Regions from separate parts of the Homo sapiens genome. Here region 2 is linked to region 1. Evidence: fine-mapped expression QTL. Tissue or cell type: whole blood. Region 1 holds a variant in brackets; the other region holds the start of a gene. All regions are shown on one strand. Distances are from middle to middle.

Region 1 (10,698 bases):
ACAGGCACGTGCCACCACGCCTGGCTAATTTTTTATATCTTTAGAAGAGACAGGGTTTCACCATGTTGGCCAGGCTGGTCTTGAACCCCTGACCTCATGATCCACCCGCCTCAGCCTCCCAAAGTGCTGGGATTATAGGCGTGAGCCACTGAGCCCAGCCTGCCTATCCTCCTTTCTACACAGCAGTGCCATGCGCTTTTTACCTCTGCCTCCCGGGAGCGGCAGCGCTGGTTGTGTGTGTGCAGAGTCTGCTTCTGTCACTTCACTTAAAAACAGCAAACCAATTTATTAACCATTTGCTCAGTAGAAGTTTAATGGAGAAATCGTTGTTTAAAACAATCAGTCAAAAAGAACAGCTCTTTTACAAACAAGTTATGGCAGTGGCAAGTCAAAACCCCAGGTTCAATTTCCTATTCCTTTCACCTGCCCCTAGAAGGGGCAAGAGGCGGGTGAGCAGGAGAGATGGGGCTATTGAAATGGTAGCTAGAGGAATTACAAAAATACACTCTGATGTAGCAACAGGGTTGTGGTGAAACATGCCAGGGGGCTGGGGAGGAACAATCAGACGGGAAGGTTCTGGAGGCAAACGAAGCCTGCGGGATCTGCAGGCGCTCAGTGCCTTGGGGAAGAAGGAATCCTGATTCCCAGGCGGCAGGTCTGGGGCTGAGCACATGCTGTTTGGGGGATCACCTGGACGCCTGGGGAGACAGAAATGGTTAAAAAATGGCAAACCTGATGGTTTTTCTGACCCTTTTCTATTCCCCCTAGAGACGGAAGCAGTGAAAGGGAGGCAAAGAAAAGCTATCAACCCAAGTAAATCGTTCCTAACGTAGCCAGAGGGGTCCTCAGCATCTCCGCACATCTGCTCCCCCAGCCCCGGGTCTACTGGCTGGACTAATAGACTAAACGGGAGGTCTGTAGGCTGTGACTCGATAGGCACAGTGGCAAGCCCCTTCCCGGGGAACAGTTCTTGCTGGTATTCGGAGCCCATGCGAAATAGTGCCCTTGTTTTACAGTTCTTTTCTTTGCAAGTGCTCTTTGAGCCTGATGGCACTGATAACCTGACCACGAATGAATGTGCTCAGTTTCCATTGCCTAGAAGGGTCAAAGTCTAAGGGTAGCAGAAAAGAGGAAGGTAGTATAGGGTCAGGGGAAAGGAAGGCAGAACCCTAAGACCAGCTGTGACAAGTTCTGTCTAGAGGTGGGCCTGCACCCCAACACCTTTCCTTCCTAGGACATCATTACACTTTCTGAATAGTGTTCTTTTTTTTTTTTTTTTTTTTTTGAGATGGGGTTTCTTTCTTGTTGCCCAGGCTGGAGTGCAATGTGCACAATCTCGGCTCACTGCAACCTCCGCCTCCTGGGTTCAAGCGATTCTCCTGCCTCAGCCTCCCAAGTAGCTGGGACTACAGGCACCCACCACAACGCCCGGCTAAGTGGCTAATTTTTGTATTTTTAGTAGAGACGGGTTTTCACCATGTTGGCCAGGCTGGTCTCAAACTTCTGACCTCAGGTGATCCACCAGCCTCGGCATCCCAAAGCACTGGGATTATAGGCATGAGCTACCGCGCCCGGCCCTGAATAGGGTTCTTTATCCCATTCCAGTGTAAGGTGGCCCCACTTCTTCCCAGCCTTCTCCATGTCTATTAGTATTAGGTATCTTAGAAGTCAAGGACAGCATTGGTAACAAGAGTCCCCCAAGATGGAGACATCTCCATCATGTGTAGGGCAGGTTGGGGTGTGTGTATGTGGATGAAAACAAGGTTGAAGCCGGCTGTTATAGACTTATAAATATCCATATTGGAACTCACCAACTGTGCATGTTGGGGGAAAAGAAGCAGAGAGATGGTTGCAGAAGGAGAAAGGAGAGTCATCAATAATACCCAAATGAGCTGGTTAATGTTTCCAGTTTCCATCCAGAACTTGACATTTGAGCAGAGCCACAGACAGAAGCTCCTTACTGGCTTTGTTTCAGTGCCTCTCAGTTGGAAGCATAATAGAAGATTAGAAAAACCAATTGCCTGGATAGAGGCTCAAATCATTTTTTAAAAAATAAATGGATTCCTGTTAATGGGCCTGATTTTCAACTGTGTTTAGGTAAAGAACATTGCCATCGTTCAGAATTAGACATGAGCTTCAGTGTCCCTGAAGAGCCACTTTAAAGAAGAATGTCTTTAAGATTTGAAAGAATTCAACCCATGCTACTTCTGAACGATTTACTGTTAGGTGCTGTGCAGATATGTGTTAGAAAGAAATAGGAGGCTTGTGAAGGATCCAAGAGTGAGTATGACTTCAAAAGCAGTGCAGGTTAATTTGGGGCCTTTGGAGATGAGTCATCCTGCTAAAATAAACACATCAGCTTTCTCTTCACAACTTAATACACGTGTCCATATTTGGTAACAGGCCCGTGGTGAACATGTTGGCCTACCTGCAAAGGGGCCGTCTCCATGCTAAAGTGTGGGCACCAAACATTAGCATATGTACTAATAGATCATCAAGGAAGGTTATTAGTGACACGGCTACCTCTGACACATGGGACGCAACTTAAAATAGCACATGCAGACATTTTTCTCTTATGCTCGGACTCAGGGAAAAGCCCCACTTGGGTAATGTTTTGGGGTGATTTTGATGATCTGACTGGTTCTTTGTGTTAGGACAATGATACAGTTTAGAAGTTTGTCCTCTTCCAATTTCATGTTGAGATGTGATCCCTAATGTTGGAGGTGGGCCTAGTGGGTGGTGTTTGGGTCATGGGGGTGGATCCTTCAGGAATGCCTTTGTGCCCACCCTATGGTAATGAGTTCGTGGGAGATCTGGTTGTTAAAGAGGCTGGGACCTCCCCTTTTCCCCCTCTTGCCCCCTCTTGCCATGTGGCACGCCAGCTCCCCTTGCCTTCTGCCATGAGTAAAAGCTCCCCGAGGGCCTCACCAGAAGCAGATGCGGGTGCCATGCTTCTTGTATAGACTGCAGAACGTGAGCCAAATAAACTTTGTTTATGAAGTACCCAGCCTCAGGTATTCCTTCGTAGCAATGCAAAATGGATGAATATGGCAAGTTTCTTAGCTATTTAAGGAGACGTATGGGACTCTGCAGATGATCATATTCCCATATACAAATTAAGGCACATAGCCTTGATGGTTGGGAGTTTCCTAAATTTTCAGAAAATTCTACTGTGCTAGGTTGCCAATGCCACTCAAAGTGATGTATTGGTTGATATCCTAAGGAAAGTTGGGTTTTGAATGAACAGGCAATCAGTTAGGGTATTTGATGTATATTATGAGACATGTGGACTTGTATAAGGTGCCTGTGGGTATAGGAACAGAGCAGAAGAAAGAGAGAACAAGGAAGAAAGAGAGGAATAAAAGCAAGCAAACAAAACCAAAACAAAAATGGCACGCTGGAAAGAAGCCAAATGGAGGAAAGAAGATGAACCCCTTTAGTCCATATTCTAGTAGCTACTAGGTCCATTGGACCAAATTCTCCACGTCTTGCTCAGTAATGATACCGTTGACCACAAGGAATCAGTCCCTCTCTGGCAAGGTGGCAGGATGGACAAATGGCTTGTGGAAGGAGGAAGAGCAGAAACCACAACTCCTAATCTTAACAGGAACTCTTTGTCCAGGTAAAATGGGAAACTTTAATGTTTCCATGGAGCCAGGCACCCTGAGAGCTGGGGAAAGGAGAGGGGATAGGTAAGCCGTCTTTGAAGATGAAATAGCACCATCATAGCTGTGGTAATTGGACTCTGCTAATGGCTAAGAGTAGGTCCCACTCTTGGTGTTTAGAGAGACAATCTCGAGGAAAGGTGAGCTGACTGGTTGCTGTGGCAACTGGATGGGCGTATTGGTCCACTTAACTGTCCCCATAGTAACTAAGCTCCTGGGGAGTGATAGAGGAATTAGTTATCTTAACATACTACTATTATCCCCATGGTAACCAGTCTCTAGCCGGAAGTGGTCAGCTTCAAGGTGCAATCATAGGAAAATCTGCTGCCTAGAGAAAGGGTGGGCTGGACTCCTTGCGGGGTGTGTGTGTGTGGAGTGGGGAGGGGGCGGGGAGATGAATGTGCTTCTAGGCCTGGGAGCAAGGCTAAGACAGTTGGTGTGTGAGGTCTCTCCTTGCCCCCAGCTTATTGGTGCCCAACTCACTCATGGGTTGCAGTGGCCGGTACAGCTGGGAGGAGCGCCCCTTCCGGCTACACATTACCATTCTGGTGCAGGGTGCGCCGGCGCTGGCTGGACTGCATGCTCAGGACCAAGTATTGCCTCATAAACTCACTGAACCGCTTCTGATTGGCCAACTTCCTGGCCGACTTCCGGGCCCCGGTGAAGCCCCCAAATCTCTTCTGCAGCTGCTTCTGCTCCATCTCACCAGCCTCCTCCATGCCAGGCTCGGGCTCTTCCTGCTCCTGGAACAAGCTCCGGACTCGGGGCATTCGCCGCAGATGCTGCATCTCCGAAGCTCTCGGCTGGTAGAGAGCAGCCGCCACATGCTCTGGGGCGGCAGGGCTGAGCTGCCAAGAGCTCCTGGCCATGACCTTGGTGCATGGAGTCCAGAGGGGGCTGGGGAAGACCTTCTCTTCACACTCGAGGATGCACACCTGCAAAGATACGGGTGAGAGGAGGGGAGAAGGAACAAGGACCTCTGTTAATCCAGGGCGAGGGAGGAGATCTGGCCCACTGCACCAGTGCAAGTGCTTCTGAAGCATCTAAGTTATCAAGTAACGTGGAGCAGTTTTACACAGGTTTTAGGTTCGTAGAATTTCAGAATTGGAAACAAACAGAGAATCATCTGACCCAGCTCCATCATTTTACAAAGAAACCAGGGCTCAGAGAGGTGAGCGTAACTTAC[C/T]TCTGGTGTCACAGCACGTTAACATAGGAAGTTAACACAGGATAAATGCGCCCAACACCGCACCTTGTTACATCTTTAGTCGGGTTTTTGGAGCCAAGCACAGCTCATGACTGTCACCCATAAAGAATTTTATTTTGTTCTCTCTTCAGGCTTGTGGGAGGTCACATGGGTTAAAGAAATTGGGGATGTGAAAGTATGTAGTCAAATCTGCAGGTTTATTTTAAGGTCACCATGTAAAGATCTACCTAGGTGTTGTTAATTTTTCATCCCGCGTACAGCAGTCGTCACTATCTGTGTATCATTTATAGCAAATGGGGTCAAGACCCTGTGGGGTGGTAGGCCGGCTGGACGTGCGGGGCTGAACCTGTGATCCAGTTCCAGGTGTGGGGAGAGATGCCATCATCAGACCAGAGCCCAGCAGACCCGCTCGGCTCCTAGGAACACTCTGCTCTGCCTCTCCTGCCAACCCTGACTTCTAGCCACCAGCTGGACCACGATGTTTCTCCAGCCCCTCTTGGCTGGTTCTGACCTTGGCCCCCCACCTCCCACGTTCTTGGTTCTGATTGGGTCTCCTGGAAGCCTCTGCCCCCAGCTTTTCTTCCTATTTGCTGTTTTGGCTTCACCCCTAATTTCAGTCCAGGTTTCTGGCCTTAGCCGGCTGGAAACCCCACTTCAACCTGACCTTACTGCTGTGAGTCAGTAGGCAGAGCTCCTCATCATAGCGTGGAGCTCCTGCCTGGCTTCCAGGTCACCTTCTGGGGCAGAGGCTGCAACTGGCCCGTATTCATCTCCCCTTCTCCTTATGCACAGAACACTGTTTTATTCCTAAAGGCAACGTATATGTTTCCCAAGCTTCCTTGGAGCCATAAGTAGCTGACGACATAAAAATGGAAGTGTAGGCCGGGTGCGGTGGCGCACGCCTGTAATCCCAGCACTTTGGGAGGCCGAGGCGGGTGGATCACGAGGTCAGGAGATCGAGACCATCCTGGCTAACATGGTGAAACCCCATCTCTACTAAAAATACAAAAAAAAAAAAAAATTAGCTGGGCGTGGTGGCGGGCGCCTGTAGTCCCAGCTACTCAGGAGGCTGAAGCAGGAGAATGGCGTGAACCCGGGAGGCGGAGCTTGCAGTGAACCGAGATCGTGCCACTGCACTTGACGCTGGGCGACAGAACGAGACTCCGTCTCAAAAAAAAAAAAAAAAAAAGGAAACGTAATCCCAGAACTTTGGGAGGCCAAAGCAGGCGGATCACTTGAGGCCAGGAGTTTGAGACCAGCCTGGCCAACATGGCAAAAACCCATCTCTGCTAAAAATACAAAAATTAGACGGGTGTGGTGATGGCTGCCTGTAATCCCAGCTACTGGGGAGGCTGAAGCAAAAGAGTTGCTTGAACCTGGGAGGCGGAGGTTGCGGTGAGCTATCATGTCACTGCACTCCAGCCTGGGTGACAGAGTGAGACTTTGCCTAAAAAGAAAAAAAAGGTGATCGGGCATCAGATGGGGTTTCCAAGAAAGTAGGAGACTGACTTAAGTGGGAAGAACATTCCGTTTTCCTCTTCCTCCAACTTTCTGTTTGGAATGTGGACATTTGGGCTGACATTGTGTTTGCCATCTAGAAACCATGCAGCGACTCAAAGGATGGGAGTCATGGGCTAGAAGCTGCCGACTGGCAGAGAAGAGAGAGGAGACTGGAGCTGCCACTGCAGCCCTGGGCTGTTCCCTTCTCACTCCTTGTGAGGAACTGAATCTATTGATTTCAGCCGCTGTCACTTTAGATGTTTGTTACTAGCAGGTGAATTTCATTCTTATCTGATATATTTGTCCTTCTGCTTGGCCTCTCGGTCCCTGTCTCTGAGTGGCACCTCACTCCCCAGTTGACTCAGATTTCAAACCCTGGGCATATCTTTTCCTCCTCTCTCACTGCCCCCATCCTGCCAGTCTACAGTTCTGCCCCTCCTCCCACTCCCTCTACCACCGCCTAAGTGCCTCTTAGGTGAAGTGGGTCCCTAACTGATCTCCGCATCTCTGGTCTTTGCCACTGTCATCAGTGTGGTACCCCTGGCAGGATACTCTTCCTGAAGAGTAACTAATCATGTCATTACCTTGCTCACAGCTGTCTAATTGTTTATCATATCCATAAAACAGCTCCAAACTCTTGAGCAAAGCATTCAAATCCCTCTACCACCTGGTCCAGCCCACCATCTAGGTCTTATTTCCGATTCTTCATCACACACCCCTTGAGGCCTATGAGGCTGTTCCTAGTGCCTTAAACACCGCAAAGCTCCTCGCACCTGCATGCCTTTCTCTCTGTCCCTTGGATGCAATGACCTCCTTGCATCCTTCCATCCATCCTTTGGGACCCAGACAAGCTCCAGTGCTGCCCCTCTCTGATAACTTCTAGTTCCCTGGCAAGAATCACTCTCTCCTGCCTCTGTCTTCCCACAGAACTTTGTATTCCTCTTGTGGAAATTTTAATGCTTTATGTCATTAAATTGCAATACCTTCTAAGGCGGAATATGACAAGTTAGGGACCACATCTTACTCATGTGTGAATCCCTTGCAGGAATCTTCTCCTTCCAGTAAAGAGTAGGGTTCCAGTAGAGGTTAGTTGAACTGAGATGAATTAATCAAGAAGTCACTCTATATTTAGCTAAGAGTATAAAAGAAGGGAATGAAAAGAGGTGAGAAAGAGTCCCTGGAAGAACAGGGGTCGCAGCTAGTTGCAACCAGGACTGGGACGCCCCTAGTGCTTAGCATGCGCACTGTTGCAGGCAGCTCCTGTCACCCTGCTGCCACCCTTTGCTTATCTGATTACTCATCTGTCCCATTAGTCCAGGATTCCAGGATTCTTTTATTCTTTTTTTTTTTTCCTTTGGAGACAGAGCCCACACCTGGTCTAAAGGGTCCCACACCTGGATGTGAGTCCCAATCACCTGCAGAGCTTTTAAAAACAGAATTTCGGCTAGGCGCAGTGGCTCATGCCTATAATCCCAGCACTTTGGGAGGCTGAGGCGGGCGGATCATCTGAGGTTGGGAGTTTGAGACCAGCCAGACCAACATGGAGAAACCCTGTCTCTACTTAAAATACAAAAAATAAGCTGGGCGTGGTGGTGCATGCCTGTAATCCCAGCTACTCAGGAGGCTGAGGCAGGAGAATCGCTTCAACCTGGGAGGCGGAGGTTGTGGTGAACCGAGACTGTACCACTGCACTCCAGCCTGGGCAACAAGAGTGAAACTCCTACTCAGAAAAAAACAAAACAGAATTTCAAGACTCAACTAAATCTCTGAAGAATAGAAGCAGGGATTAAAACTTATTTTTACAAAGGAATTAAAAACTTAATTTTACAAAGTTCAGGTAATTCCGATATTTGCCTGGGTTTGCAAATCATGAATATAATTCAACCTTTGCATTTTATGATGTGGTTGAGTAATGTGTCCAAAACAACACGGTTAGATAACAGTATAACCTGAACAAGAACTCAAAGATGCCTTGTGGCCCAGTCCAAGACATCTACTCAGCTACCTCTGTGTGCTTGCAATATGAATTGGTGGCAATTAATGCAAGAAGAAGGATTCTATGAGACCAAGAGCTGAGGTTTGGATGGGAGTATTGCCTATGTTCCACTGGACTGGAAGGGACAGGCAGGGACTAGGTCTGACAGGAGTGTCCCTTTCCTTCCCTGGCAGGGTTTCCAAGAAGCAACCTGTCCAAGTCCACCTATTAGTCACAGGAGGTGACACTGGCCCCTAGTGATGCTCACGCCGTGGTTTTTCTGAGCATGGCTTTTTCATTTAGCTTTTGCTCAGAGATGCTTAACACATGGAACCTAGTTGCTGACAGAATGACCTCAGCAGGGAGAGGAAGGGAACTACTTTTTCACACCTGCAATGTTACTGATTATAAAAAATGATAGGTAACTTCCATAGATAGGGAGGGCTGCCTTAAGAACAATGAAGTTGCAAACTTCTGGAGTATTCTATAAAAATTGCTACTGTGCTGGGCATGGTGGCTCCCGCCTATAATCCCAGTACTTTAGGAGGCCAAGGAGGGAGGCGCCTTTGAGCCCAGGAGTTTGAGAGCAGCCTGGGCAACATAGGGAGACCTCAGCTCTACAAAAATAAAAATGTTAGTGGGGTGTGGTGGTGCATGCCTACAGTTCTAGCTACTTGGGAGGCTGAGGTGAGAGGATTGCTTGGGCCTGGGAAGTCAAGGCTGCAGTGAGCTGAGATTGCTGTACTGCACTCCAGCCTTGGTGACAGAACGGGACTGTCTCAAAGAAAAAAAAATGCTACTGGAGTTTGTTAGAATGCAAATTTTTAGCCTAAAGCATTGGAGATTCTGATCCACTAAGTCAAGGGTGGGGCCCAGAAATTTGTATTTTTAGCAATAGCTCAGGTGATTCTGAGACTGGATGATACCTGGAGAAATCCTGTTTTGGAACTTGCTCTGAGGAGGAAGAAGCCATCACAGAACACGGTGGTTAAAGACTCCTACAGAGAAAGAGTCACCTGGGTCTGTACTTAGCCTGCTCCTGAAATACTTGGAAGAAAACCAGCTAGAATCAATGTGTAGTATATTCTTTCAGATCAGAATCCTGTCGAGTTAGTACTCTACAGGCGTGGATCTCAACTGGGAGTGATTTTGCCCACTAAGGGGCCATTTGGCAATCTCTGGAGACATTGTTGGTTGTCAGAACTGGTGTGTGTGTGTGTGTGTGTGTGTGTGTGTGTGTGTGTGTTACTGGCACCTAGAGGCCAGGGATGCCAGTAAACATCCTAAAGTGCCCAGGACAACCCCCACAACAAATAATTCCCCAGTCAAAAGTGCCCATAGTGGCAAGTTTGAGAAACTCTGCTCTACAAAGTCAACAGGGATGCAGAGAAGTGTGGCTAGCACTGGGAAAGTCATAGAAGGGTAGAGTGGGGGAGCTGGATCTGACTTTTGAGCATGCTTGGCCCAATCCTTGCAGAACAGGAGCCCCAAACTGCTTGTTGAATTTTTCTGCTCCGTCAGTTTATGGAAACAAGTGGAAGAGTTGTTAAACTTGGAGGTGCTTAGATCTTCTGTGAGCCCCTGGGTTTCCAAGCCCAGATAGTAATTAGATTTTGTGTCAGTCAGAGAAAATGAAATTGTGTGATCAAACCAGATGCCACAGTCCATACCCAGACTTGATGCACTGTTAGATAAATTAGATGCTAACAAAATCATCTCAACTCTTGACTTAGGAGAGGGTTTTGGGCAAATAGGAGGAAGCTAAATTCACAACGCATTTGTAGCACCAGATGGGCATAGGAGCTTAATGCCTGACCCTCTGGTGCGGGGAACTCACCAGCCTTTTTCCAGAGATGGGTTAATGGCTTATTAAGTGAGCTGGACACGTTTTGGCAGCCCACGCTGATGGCATTGCTATATTAAGCCAGAATGCGTATGGGCATCTGGAGTCTCAGATGGCTGCCAAATTCATCTGTAAAGCTGGGCTTATGGGGAAAGTGAACAAATGGCCTTTTGGGTGTCTGGGCTCAAAGATTAGGGTACAAAGTGGGAAACAGGCATATGAACCCATTGGGGATGAAAGGAGCAGCTCACAAAGGTGGTCAAGTTTCTGCCACTAAAGAGTCACACCACTTCTGACCAAGAGACATTTGGGAGCTATTTGCTTTGTGAGGTCCTGCTAGAATATCTGAGGACAAATACAGCAGATGAGCATAGAAGACAAACATATAAGGAACTCCTACTGCAAGTCACCTCATTAGAATTTTCATCTCATGAAGATAGAAAGAACTACCAGAAGGTAGCTCGTTTTGCAGTAGAATTTTAGGGAATTTTATTGATTGATTGAGACAGAG
Region 2 (10,698 bases), 20 kb after region 1:
ATGTAAATATCGTTATAGAGACAGCATTCTGTATTTTCTCATACACTTCCCAACACCTACTACAACTGTGTTCTAGGTTAAATCAGATTTTGAACTTTGAAAACTCAGTAGATGTTTTTCATTTGTAAGAAGTCTTGACTATATCTCCATGCTGGATGATGTTCTGTATTTAAATGGAGATGAGTACTTAGTTAATTCACGAGTTGTATTTGTGTTTAAACCTTACACTGTGGACCTGTGTGACTGCAGACAAGTCCTGAGATGGTCAGTCCTTTCAACTACAAAGTGGGGATAATAACAGGTTTGTTGTTACATTGATGCTGAAACTTTATACTTTGTAACGGTGGGACTGTGTGCAAATTATTTCACTTCTGTGAGCCTCAGTCTTCTCAACTGTGAAATGGGAATAGTGACAGGTTGTTGCTATTTTTATACAACCATAGCAAACATCAGTAAATCAAAAGTTACCTGAGTAGGCTGAATTTTCCATGGCTTGTATTTCACTTCGTGAGCCAAGCTCAGCTAATACTTCTATGTGGCAATACTATATTCTGAGCGTCTCATATTGAATAAAGAAATGTTGAATTGCCTTTTCTTTTGGTAATGACACCTCATAAATTTAATTGTGCCTTGCTGTTTATAAAGATAAAATACCACTATGGCTTGGCCTTAATCGATTTGCATGTAATCTTGCTTCCAAGGGCAATATAATTAGTTGCTTATCTGTTTGGAGAATCACATATGCAGCTTTAGCCGAAGCTGGACCCTAATTGAGTTTTGTCTTATGACCTATTCGAAGTCCTGTAATTTTGATGCTGCCAGCAGAGAAGAGGGGACTGCTCTTGCTAGAGGCAGATACACCTCCATCCTTTTCATCAACCACATGTAGAGAATATTCTTGACAGGTTACCAAAAAATTTTATATTCATATATTATACAACCCTGTAATCTAGGGTTAATATCAACCCACCTTTTAAAATGAACATAAACTCTTAGAGGTTAAGCAAGTTGACTAGGATCATCCGGTTTATAAGTAGCAGAGCCAGGACTTAAACTCAGGTGTGTTGACTTCAAACCATGTGTTCTGGGAAACCATCAACTTTACACACTGTTTCTGCTTTTGGAAGATTGCCAGATTCTGATGGCATCTCATTGCGGTGGAATCTATTTGCATTTCATAGCAATCATATTGCTATGACTTTAGAGCACTATGAGCCAGGCTTTGCGCTAATTGCTTTATAAGCATCACCCTATGGGGTAAGTGCTATCATCCCCATTTTATAGTTGAGCAGATTGAGGCTTGAGGAGCTGATGTAACTTGAAGTGGCAGAGCTGGGACTTATGTCTGACCCTGCCTGTCAGTGATCCCAGCAGCTGTCTTCATGTAGGGCTTCCTCTTGTCCTGAAGTCTGTACTCCCTGTCTGATGACAACCTTTTTTATTTACTTCTTATTTTTTATTTTTTGGAGATGGAGTCTCGCTCTGTTGCCCAGGCTGGAGTTCAGTGGCGCTATCTTGGCTTACTGCAAACTCTGCCTCCTGGGTTCAAATGATTCTCCCGCCTCAGCCTCCTGAGTAGCTGGGATTACAGGTGCCCGCCACCATGCCTGGCTAATTTTTTTTGTATTTTTAGTAGAGACGGGGTTTCACCACGTTGGTCAGTCTGGTCTCAAACTCCTGACCTCGAATGATCCTCCCGCCTCAGCCTCCCTAAGGTGCTGGGATTACAGGCATGAGCCACTGTGCCGGGGCTGATGACAACCTCTTTATGGTGGCTTCTCTCCAGTCCACACAGGGATCCTTCATTATGCACCAGCTGCATGTCCATCAGAAGATAGGTGGGTCTTCCCGATGCCCCATTTCTTAGACCCATTGCAGATAAGACTCCTACAATGGAGCTTATGCTTGTTTACCAGCTATTATGGAGAGAGGCTGCTTTAGTTTCTTTTCCTCTTCTGGCTGATACAATTACACTTCAAGTGTCTCTCCTCTCATCTAAATTTCCACCTGGAAAGAGGGGGACGGCATAGAGGAGGTGGAGGAAAGAACAATTGCCCAGCCCAGCACAGGTCAAGCATTCCCCAGGCTGGAGAGAAATGAACGCGTGAGAGCTGTGCTCAGAAACAAGAGTCCTGGCTTCTAGTCTGGCTCTGTCGTTACCTGTGGGATTTTAAGCAAGACCTTTTCTCTCTGGGCCTCAGCTTTTCCCTCTATAAGAAGAGGCAGTTAGATGAGATGGTTGATATTCTCTGATTTTATGAATGGCCAGATATTTGTCCTTTCCTGGAAGTAAGGATGGAAGGAAGAAGGGAAGAGGAAAAGGAGATGAAGGCTTTATGGGGAAGTAGCTTCCGGGCAGCATGAGGAAAGCCATAGAAAGAGTGTGGAGGGGGCAAAAGACACACGTTCAGGGCTACTGCAGGTGGGAAGGTAGCTCTCAACTCCCATCTTCCTGGTTCTGGGCCACACTCCCACATATACTGGCAACATAATTTAAATAGATTTTGGAAAGCTTTTATTTACTTTTAGCTGGGTGTATTGGCATGCAACTGCAATCCCAGCAACTTAGGACGCTTGAGCCCAGGAGTTTGAGACCAGCTTGGGGAACATAGTAAGACACCTATCTCTACAAAAAAAAAAAAAAAAAAAAATTTAGCTAGGTGTGGTGGTGCACATCTGCAGTCTTAGCTATTCAGAAGGTTGAGGCAGGAGGATAGCTTGGGCCCAGGAGGTTGAGTCTGCAGTGAGCTATGATTGTGCCACTGCACTCCAGTGTGGGTGACAGAGTGAGACCCTGTCTGTAAACAACAACAACAACAACAAAAGACCTGCCTGGGCAATATAGCAAGACCTCCAACTCAAAAAGAAAGAAAGAAAAGCTTTTATTTACTTTTATGTAATAAAATCATTCGGTGTTCTTTTCTAAAATATTGGAAAACACAGAGAAACAGCAATGAATCTAGGACAACAATCTTCAAACTTCTTCTTCTTTTTTTTTTTTTTTTTTGAGATGGAGTCTCGCTCTGTCACCCAGGCAGGAGTGCAGTGGTGTGATCTCGGCTCACCGCAACCTCCACCTCCCGAGTTCACGCCATTCTCCTGCCTCAGCCTCCCGAGTAGCTGGGACTACAGGCGCCCACCGCCACGCCCAGAGAATTTTTTTGTATTTTTAGTAGAGACGGGGTTTCACCGTGTTAGCCGGGATGGTCTTGATCTCCTGACCTTGTGATCTGCCCACCTCGGCCTCCCAAAGTGCTGGGATTACAGGCATGAGCCACTGCGCCCGGCCAAACTTCTTTAACTTTGTACCCCTAGCAGTCGATTTTGAGTACACATTCCTAATTTATTTATAAGTTACATACATTATAAAATCCACTAAAATGCAAATTAAGAAAGGTAAGATAAAAACAAAAGTCTCAGTCTCCTGAAGCCCATTGTGAGTTTGGAGGAAGCCAGCGCTCTGGCCACCCTGTGCTCCTGGCACTTGCTCTGTGTGGCTCCTATCAGGAACCCCACACACGTTCCTTGGCCGAATGAATGAAAGGATGAATGGGGAAGGAGGGTGGGGGGAAGATTGCAGGCCAGTGTGGAAAGAGGGGAGGTTGGATCTGAGCCACTGTGGGATGGCAGAGCTGGGGTGCATGGTGAGGCATGCTATCTACTCCACCTGCCAGGCTGGGCCCCCGGGCTGATGATTTTGTGCTTCTGCAATGTTGAAGCAGCTGCCAGTATTTTGAAAAAAAAAAAAAAAAAAAAAAAAAAAAAGAAAGAAAGAAAGAAAGAAACAAACAAAAAAAACCCCACAGGATCGTGGAAAATTGAGACTGAAACTAATTGTAGCCTATCCAGGGAGATGCCCAGAAAACTGGCTTGCCCCTGAAATCGATGTGCTCCAAATCTCATGACTAGTTTGTGATTAGATGGAAAACTTTATGTTCGACTGTGGGATTTAAATAAAGGCGTTTAGAAAATCCAGTTTGCTTCATGACTGCCCAGCAATTCAAGCCACTGCCAGCCACTCATTGTCAGGACGGCTCCCGTTTTCTGAGAAGGGCCCGTCCCTTTCCTAAGATATCTGAGGAGTAGCTCCACCCAGACTCGGAATGCAAGATATTTCAAAGCTTCCTTCGTGGGCTTTGGGAGCTGTGGAGCTGGATGGAGAAATGAGGGATCACTGAACCGTGTCAGTGCAAGTAGAGAACGCTCACCTGAAACTTCCCATTCCTACCAGTGTGCATATGTGCATGTGTGTATTAGCATGAAATAAGCACGTAGACAAGCTTAGCTCACTGCCTGGCACAGAGTGGGTTTCAAGAAATGTTAATTCCTTTGCCCTCATTTTATGTGTTTGACCTGGCTGCTGCCTCCCTCTTCAAAGCCCTTCACCCATCCAAATTCCACCTGCCTTCTCACTTGGTAGGATCCCAGGAATGCCTGGAGGAAATGCTCCTTCTCCCGAATTCTTCTAGCACTTGCTCTCTGGATTATGTGATTTAGGACTGAATTACACCCTGCCTTGCATGGTCCTCTAATTGTTTCTCATGTTTGTGTTACGTCTCTCCTCTACCCCCGACCCCACTATGAGTTCATAAGCACCCCTGACCGTAACGGGGAGATGAACTGGAGCCACAATGCCTTGGCTCAGTCCTGACCCTGCCATGTACTGAATAAATCATTTAATCTCTCAGTTTCAGTTTCTCCAACTGCAACACCGAGATAATGGCACCACCTCACAGGGCTGTTGCTGGGATAATAGGTGTGAAAGCGCCTAAATCGTTGTACAAATGTAAAGTGCTGTTATTATCACCTCTGCTGAATCTACTAGAGCCCCTGCAAGCCTCCCTGCCTGGTGGAGTGTAGACGGTAACTACCTGATTGATTGAATACAGGATAGCTTAGTGACAGCTCTTGTCATAGGCTCCAGGGAGCACAGGTTTGAGCCTAATCCTGCAATCACTCCCTTCACTGACAATGCAAACTCGCCTGCATTTTACAAATCCGTAAGTACTCTCAGCCTTCAGCTGATAAAGCAGGGGCTGCTGCCCTGTGCGCAACAAAACTGCGCCCTCAAAATGACCCGAGGCTGTACCACAGCGCCCTCGCCAGGCAGCACCAGGCGGCACATGCTTTTACAGAGGTGGTGATGGTTGGGGATGGGTTTTCCAGGGACCCTCCTCTGCAGAAGACTCAGCAAGCCCAAAGGAGCACGAATCCTTTTTGTTAAAGGTAACATAGCCTCAGTGTAAGCTTGTAGAATATTTCCCTGCCACACTTTACAAATGAGAAAAAAAGAGGCTGCATGCAGTAGCCACCCACAAGCAGCGAAAAAGAGCAGTATTTGCTTTGGGAGGTTTTGATAAGAAGCCAGGCAGTTACTTTTCCCATCTATGTTGAAAACTCTGGTTTGGGCTTGCTGGCGAATGCCGTGCAAAGCTCATCTTTTGTTAGTCTGCCGAACAATGTTATTGGTTATAATTGGGGCAATTATGGGCTGCTTGAGGAAGCTAAACACAGATGTTTAAGCGCAGGATGGGGGTATTCAAGTCCAAAGCAGCTTGCTTTAAATAGTCCATTTCCCGAATCATCCTGCCTTACTTGAAATTCCCCCAGAACTTGCCCATGTTCAGAGCGAGATTCGGGGAGGAGGGGCTGGGTAGTGAAGCCGGGGAAGCAAGACTCGAGGGAGAGAGATGCACAAAGAGAGGAGGAAGAAAGAAGGTGGCTGAGAGAGCCTCGAGAGTTGGGATGCGGTGACTATGAACGGAGTATTCTGCATGACCTGGGCAAAGACCTTTAGGTGGGGGAGATGGGCAGGGGGAGAGGGATGCCAAGCAAGAGAAGAGCCCTCTAAATGAATCGGGTTCTGGGAGACCAAGGTCACGCCCGTAGAAATGCTCTCTGGAATTCACACGCCGTGGCGCTCAGCAGTGTGTGTATACAGGTGAAGCACACTCCCCAGATCTGGCGCTTCCCCATTATTTGTAGCAATTTCTGCTGGGGGCAGAAGGGAGAAGGGCTCCCTCCGGATTAAAAACTCCCATCTGGATGGCATCAAGTTCAGTGATAGGCGGAGAAGCAGCCTGCGCACCGCATCTGAGAGGAAAGGAAGCCACTGAGAGGAAACCCTCATGAGGGGGCCAGGGTCTTCCTGGGGGCCGCCCCGTGGAAGGCAAACCCCCTCCCAAGTGCCTGCCCCTCCTCTGGCCTCACTCCTCCAGCAGCCTCCTCTCGACACAGAGCAACAACCACGTAGGGGCCACAGCTGGGGAAGCAAAACTTTTCCTCATTTCCAAGTTCCCCTCTTTCTGCTTCTGCGTCTGTCTGAGGTTAAAAAAGAGACTCAGCCCTCCCCCGTTCCCCACCATCCAAGCGCTACAAAGGAGATGAATGAAGAAACCATCTCGCAAGAGGCCAGCAGCATCCACACTGGACAAAGGAGAGAGGCCGAGGAGCCAGCCCCTGGTGGCCCTGCCCTCCCGGAGCTCCACGCAGTTAGTCCAGTTAGTCGCGGTCGGGCTGGGGGCCCCGTGCAGTTGCCTACCTGAGAGCTGTCAGTCCCCGGCTCCCTCCGATGGATGCGAGGCTCGGTTCCGCTTTCTCAGCCACACCAGCATATATATCCTCTCCCCCACGCACAGCCCTCCCCTTCCCTGCCCACCTCCATGACACATACACACACTGACCCCCTTCAGCAACCAAACAGCAGAACCTGCAAGCCTTCCTGGCTGTTCCCTTCCCCCGGCTCTGCCATCAGACCTGTGACATCCCCACCTCCCCATCAATCCATTCTCAAGCCTGCTTCACCTGGACTCTGTTCAGCCAGGATCCCACAGCTGCCTTCCCTGTGCTTCCAGAGGCTCTGTGAGGACTGATGGGGAGCTCTGGCAAGTCAGAAAAAAAGCCTCCTGGTGACAGTGACGAGGCAGACCCCAAATCCTGGAGTCTCCTTGAGCAACCTTTTTGCCTGAGGAGTGAAGAATAGGAGGCAGGCAGAAGGGAGGGGAGCTCATGCCAAGCTCCTACCGACTCGGAGGAGCCCAGGGCTGAGCTAAGCCAAGCCCTGACCTAATGTCATTGCCCCTAACTAGGCCACTCAAGAGGTGGCTGCACCTGCCCTGGGCCAGGTCAGGAGGCATTTCCACAGGTGCCCACAGCATGGTGCAATGGAGAATGCTGAGACTCGAGGCTCAGATGGAAGTGTCTGAAATTCGGCTGTACAGTCAGAGCAAGGCACATCTCTTTGTGAACCTCAAGTCCTCCTTCCGGAAAATGAGTCTAATACTGCCCAGGATGGTTGTGAGTAGAAAAAGGAGATTCTGTTTGAATCTACAACACACGAGGCCCTTAATGAATGTGCTGCATCCTCCCTCTCCTCTCAGCCCGCTTTTCACACTGATTAGTACCACCTGGATGTAGAAATCCCATATCAGTGTCTGGTGTCACAACAGAGAGCTTTTAAAGCTTCTGCAACTTAGGGCATCACTACCGAGGGCCCTGGAGGCTCAGAAGCTCTGGAAGCTTCCCTGTCCCTTACTGCAGAGCCTCTTTGTCTTCTACAGCCGCCGGGGGTTGTGGGCTGCAGGAAAGGAGCTCACAGGCTGAAGGCACAGGCTTGAGGGTTTAGCATCCTTGTGGACCCCACGTTTCCTTACCTTAGGTGAATTTCACCATGACCCTGTCCTTGGTTTTCCTAAGAGGGTCTAAAATATTCCAGAATCCCAGGGTTTGAACCTATGTCATCCAAGGAGCTCAAGCACTCATTCATGTGGTTAAGTCCAGCTCTCTGGTCTACCCAGGACTGGGTGGAGAAGGATTGAGGGAAGCATCTGCCCTGACTGCAAATGGTATAGGGTTTCTTTTTGGGGTAATGGAAATGTTCTGGATTTAGACTGAGGTGATGGTTGCACAACATAGCAAGAATACTAAAACCCACCAAATTGTATGCTTTAAAATGGTGCATTTTATGTTATGGGAATTACATCTCCATAAAAAGAAAATAGGAAAAAGACAGCAAACATCTGCTCAGGTTAAGAGCAACAGGTTCTGAGAATAAAATTTCCCTTCCGTCTGTGTTCACAGCAAAAGGGCTCAGGAGACCAGCATACTCATGATTCTTCACTTAGATCTCTGTTGCCCAAACCTTACACTGCAGGTCGCAGCTACCATTTTGGACTCTTTGGGAAACCAGCATGTTCACTGACTGACACGGGGTCACTTTTGCATCCTGATGTACTTCAGTGTCTCAGGCCTGGAACCTGATTTCATACATGATGTGGCAGATATTGCAGGCTGCCTACCCAATCCCCATTTCCCTGTTCTTCCTTACTAAACGGTACCCTTGATTTTATTCCAGGCATCAATGCACTTAGCTAAAAGACTACATTTCCCATTGACCAAGGGTTGCCAATGAGCATTAAGCTGCAGGTCCTTGGGTGGGGTTTCCAGGAAAGCTTTTTTTTTTTTTTTTTTAGACGGAGTCTTGCTCTGTCGCCCAGGCTGGAGTGCAGTGGCGCCAACTCAGCTCACTGCAAGCTCTGCCTCCCAGGTTCATGCCATTCTCCTGCCTCAGCCTCCTGAGTAGCTGGGACTACAGGCACCTGCCACCATGCCTGGCTAATTTTTTTTTTGTATTTTTTTTTAGTAGAGACGGGGTTTCACCATGTTAGCCAGGATGGTCTTGATCTCCTGACCTTGTGATCTGCCCACTTCGGCCTCCCAAAGTGCTGGGATTACAGGTGTGAGCTACTGAGCCTGGCTGGGAAAGCTCTTTTAAAGGGGGTCAACTCACTGAAGGCCTCTCTCTCTTCTTTGTCCTCCCTCCATCCTGCCTGGGACACAAATGTGATGGCTGGAGCTCTAGCAGCTATCTTGGATTATGAGATAAGACAACTTTGAGGATGGAAGCCATGAGTAAATATGATGGAACATAAAGATGGAAGGATTTTGGGTCCCCCATGACTAATGGAATGGCCATATCAGTCTTGGACTCCAAACTTCAACCTTTTTTTAAAAACAAAAAAAAAACAAAAAAAACCCCAAACATTTATTTCAAATGTCAGTCAGGGTTCAGTTACCCATTGCTGCATAACAAGCCACACCAAGGCCAGAGGCTTGAAACAACAGACCACGTATTTGACTCATGATTCTACAGATTGGGAATTTTGGCTAGTCTCAGCAGGGCAGTTCTTCTGGTCTCAGCCTGACTCTCTTCTGCACCTGCAGTTGGACTCAGAAAGTTGGCTGGGTGTCAGCTGGGGACCTTGGTTCTCTTGCACATGTCTTATCCTTCATGGGTCTCTCACATCCCTCCAGCATATTAACCTGGCATAGTCTCATGGCAAGCCTGAAGTGAAAGCACAAGCAAATACAATCAAGCAAGGGAACAACCGCAAGCACACAGAACCTCTTGAGACCTAAGCATGGAGCTGGCAGTCCATTGCTTTTGCTACATTTGTTGGCTAAGGCCAGTTGCAAGACTGTCCAGAGCCAGGCTGGGTGGAGACTACAAAGTCCCAGGATAATAGAGGGTGGCTATGCAGAAGCCATTCATTGGAGGCATTTGAAACTTTTACTTCCTATGATTTAAGCCATTTAGTTGGATTTTCTATTACATCCAGTGGAAAATTACCTTAAACCAACACACCTGCCTTTGAGCACCTCGTCATTCCCAGGATGTTCAGGCAGCTAAATGCTTTTCTTCCCTTGCAGTTGAGGAAGAGAAAGAGCAAGAGTGAAAAGTCACTTAGCTTCTCTGGACTTTTCTTTCCTCATTTACCAGACAGAAGAGTTGAACCCAACACCTGGATATTCTTGGTGGGTTGAATGAAGCTGCATGTGGTGGCAGGCTGTCTCCAGTGATGGATGGGGAAGGGCAGGATGAACCCAGGAGGGAGTTTAAAACCACTGTTGGGTGGGGGAGTAGAAGAATCTTGCCCCTCAGAAAAGCACAAGTAGACTAGAAATGGTGCAGACTGTGTGGCGTTTGTGATGGCTTCAGGGCTTCCCCCTTGCCACACAGCCACTGAGACTTGGCACTTTGAGAGCCATGGGCTTCCCTTGGGTATGGTAACTGGTCACAGAGCAGCAAGCTGCCCCCTGCTTTTCTGATTGGCAGGATACATTTATTAAAATAGTTGGAAAAGAAAGGTCACATGTTCTTATTTCTACTGCTTTGTGTGTGTGTGCACGCGCGTGTGTGTGTATGCGTGTGTGTGTGTGTGCACAAGAACTTGGAATTAATAAAATTCTTGGCTGGGCGTGGTGGTTCATGCCTGTAATCCCAGCACTTTAGGAGGCCAAGGTGGGAGGTTTGCTTGAGCCCAGGAGTTCAAGACCAGTCTGGGCAACACGGCAAGACCCTGTCTCTATAAAATATAAAAAACTAGCCAGGTGTGGTGGTAAGCACCTGTAGTCTCAGCTACTTGGGAGGCTGAGGAGGGAGGATTACTTGAGCCTGGGAAGTTGAGGCTGCAGTGAGGCATGATTGAGCCACTGCACTCCAGCCTGGGTAACAGAGTAAGACCTTGTCTCATAAAAATAAAATAAAATAAAATAAAATAATGATTTCTTCTGCTTATGAGGTGGCGGAAGTTCACTCCTGCCCACACCAGCTTGGCATCTTCTTTGCAATAGAGGCCCAACCAGGGAGGCTGCAAACATTAGAATCCAATCTGTACTGATAGGTAAGTTTTGAGGCAG

The links. PIP is the estimated chance that this variant, and not a neighbour inherited with it, causes the effect.
Region 2: it holds the start of PNOC, and the variant in region 1 is fine-mapped to the expression of PNOC in whole blood (TOPMed, PIP above 0.99).

Annotation. Positions count from the first base shown.
Region 1 is chr8:28,332,942-28,343,639 of GRCh38, reverse strand. PNOC (prepronociceptin) reads right to left here. Exons shown (of 4, transcript NM_006228.5): 3 at 4,149-4,600; 4 at 289-698. The coding sequence ends at 4,196. Among named protein-coding and RNA genes, the nearest start is that of PNOC, 21 kb to the right of the region's middle. RefSeq lists enhancers at 2,313-2,392, 4,340-4,409, 5,090-5,239, 5,330-5,489, 5,510-5,559 and 1 more and silencers at 4,080-4,129, 6,638-6,747. The variant C/T (reference allele first, on the strand shown) is at 4,852.
Region 2 is chr8:28,313,160-28,323,857 of GRCh38, reverse strand. It overlaps PNOC (prepronociceptin), which reads right to left and starts at 6,590. Exons shown (of 4, transcript NM_006228.5): 1 at 6,542-6,590. RefSeq lists enhancers at 4,573-5,084, 5,085-5,597.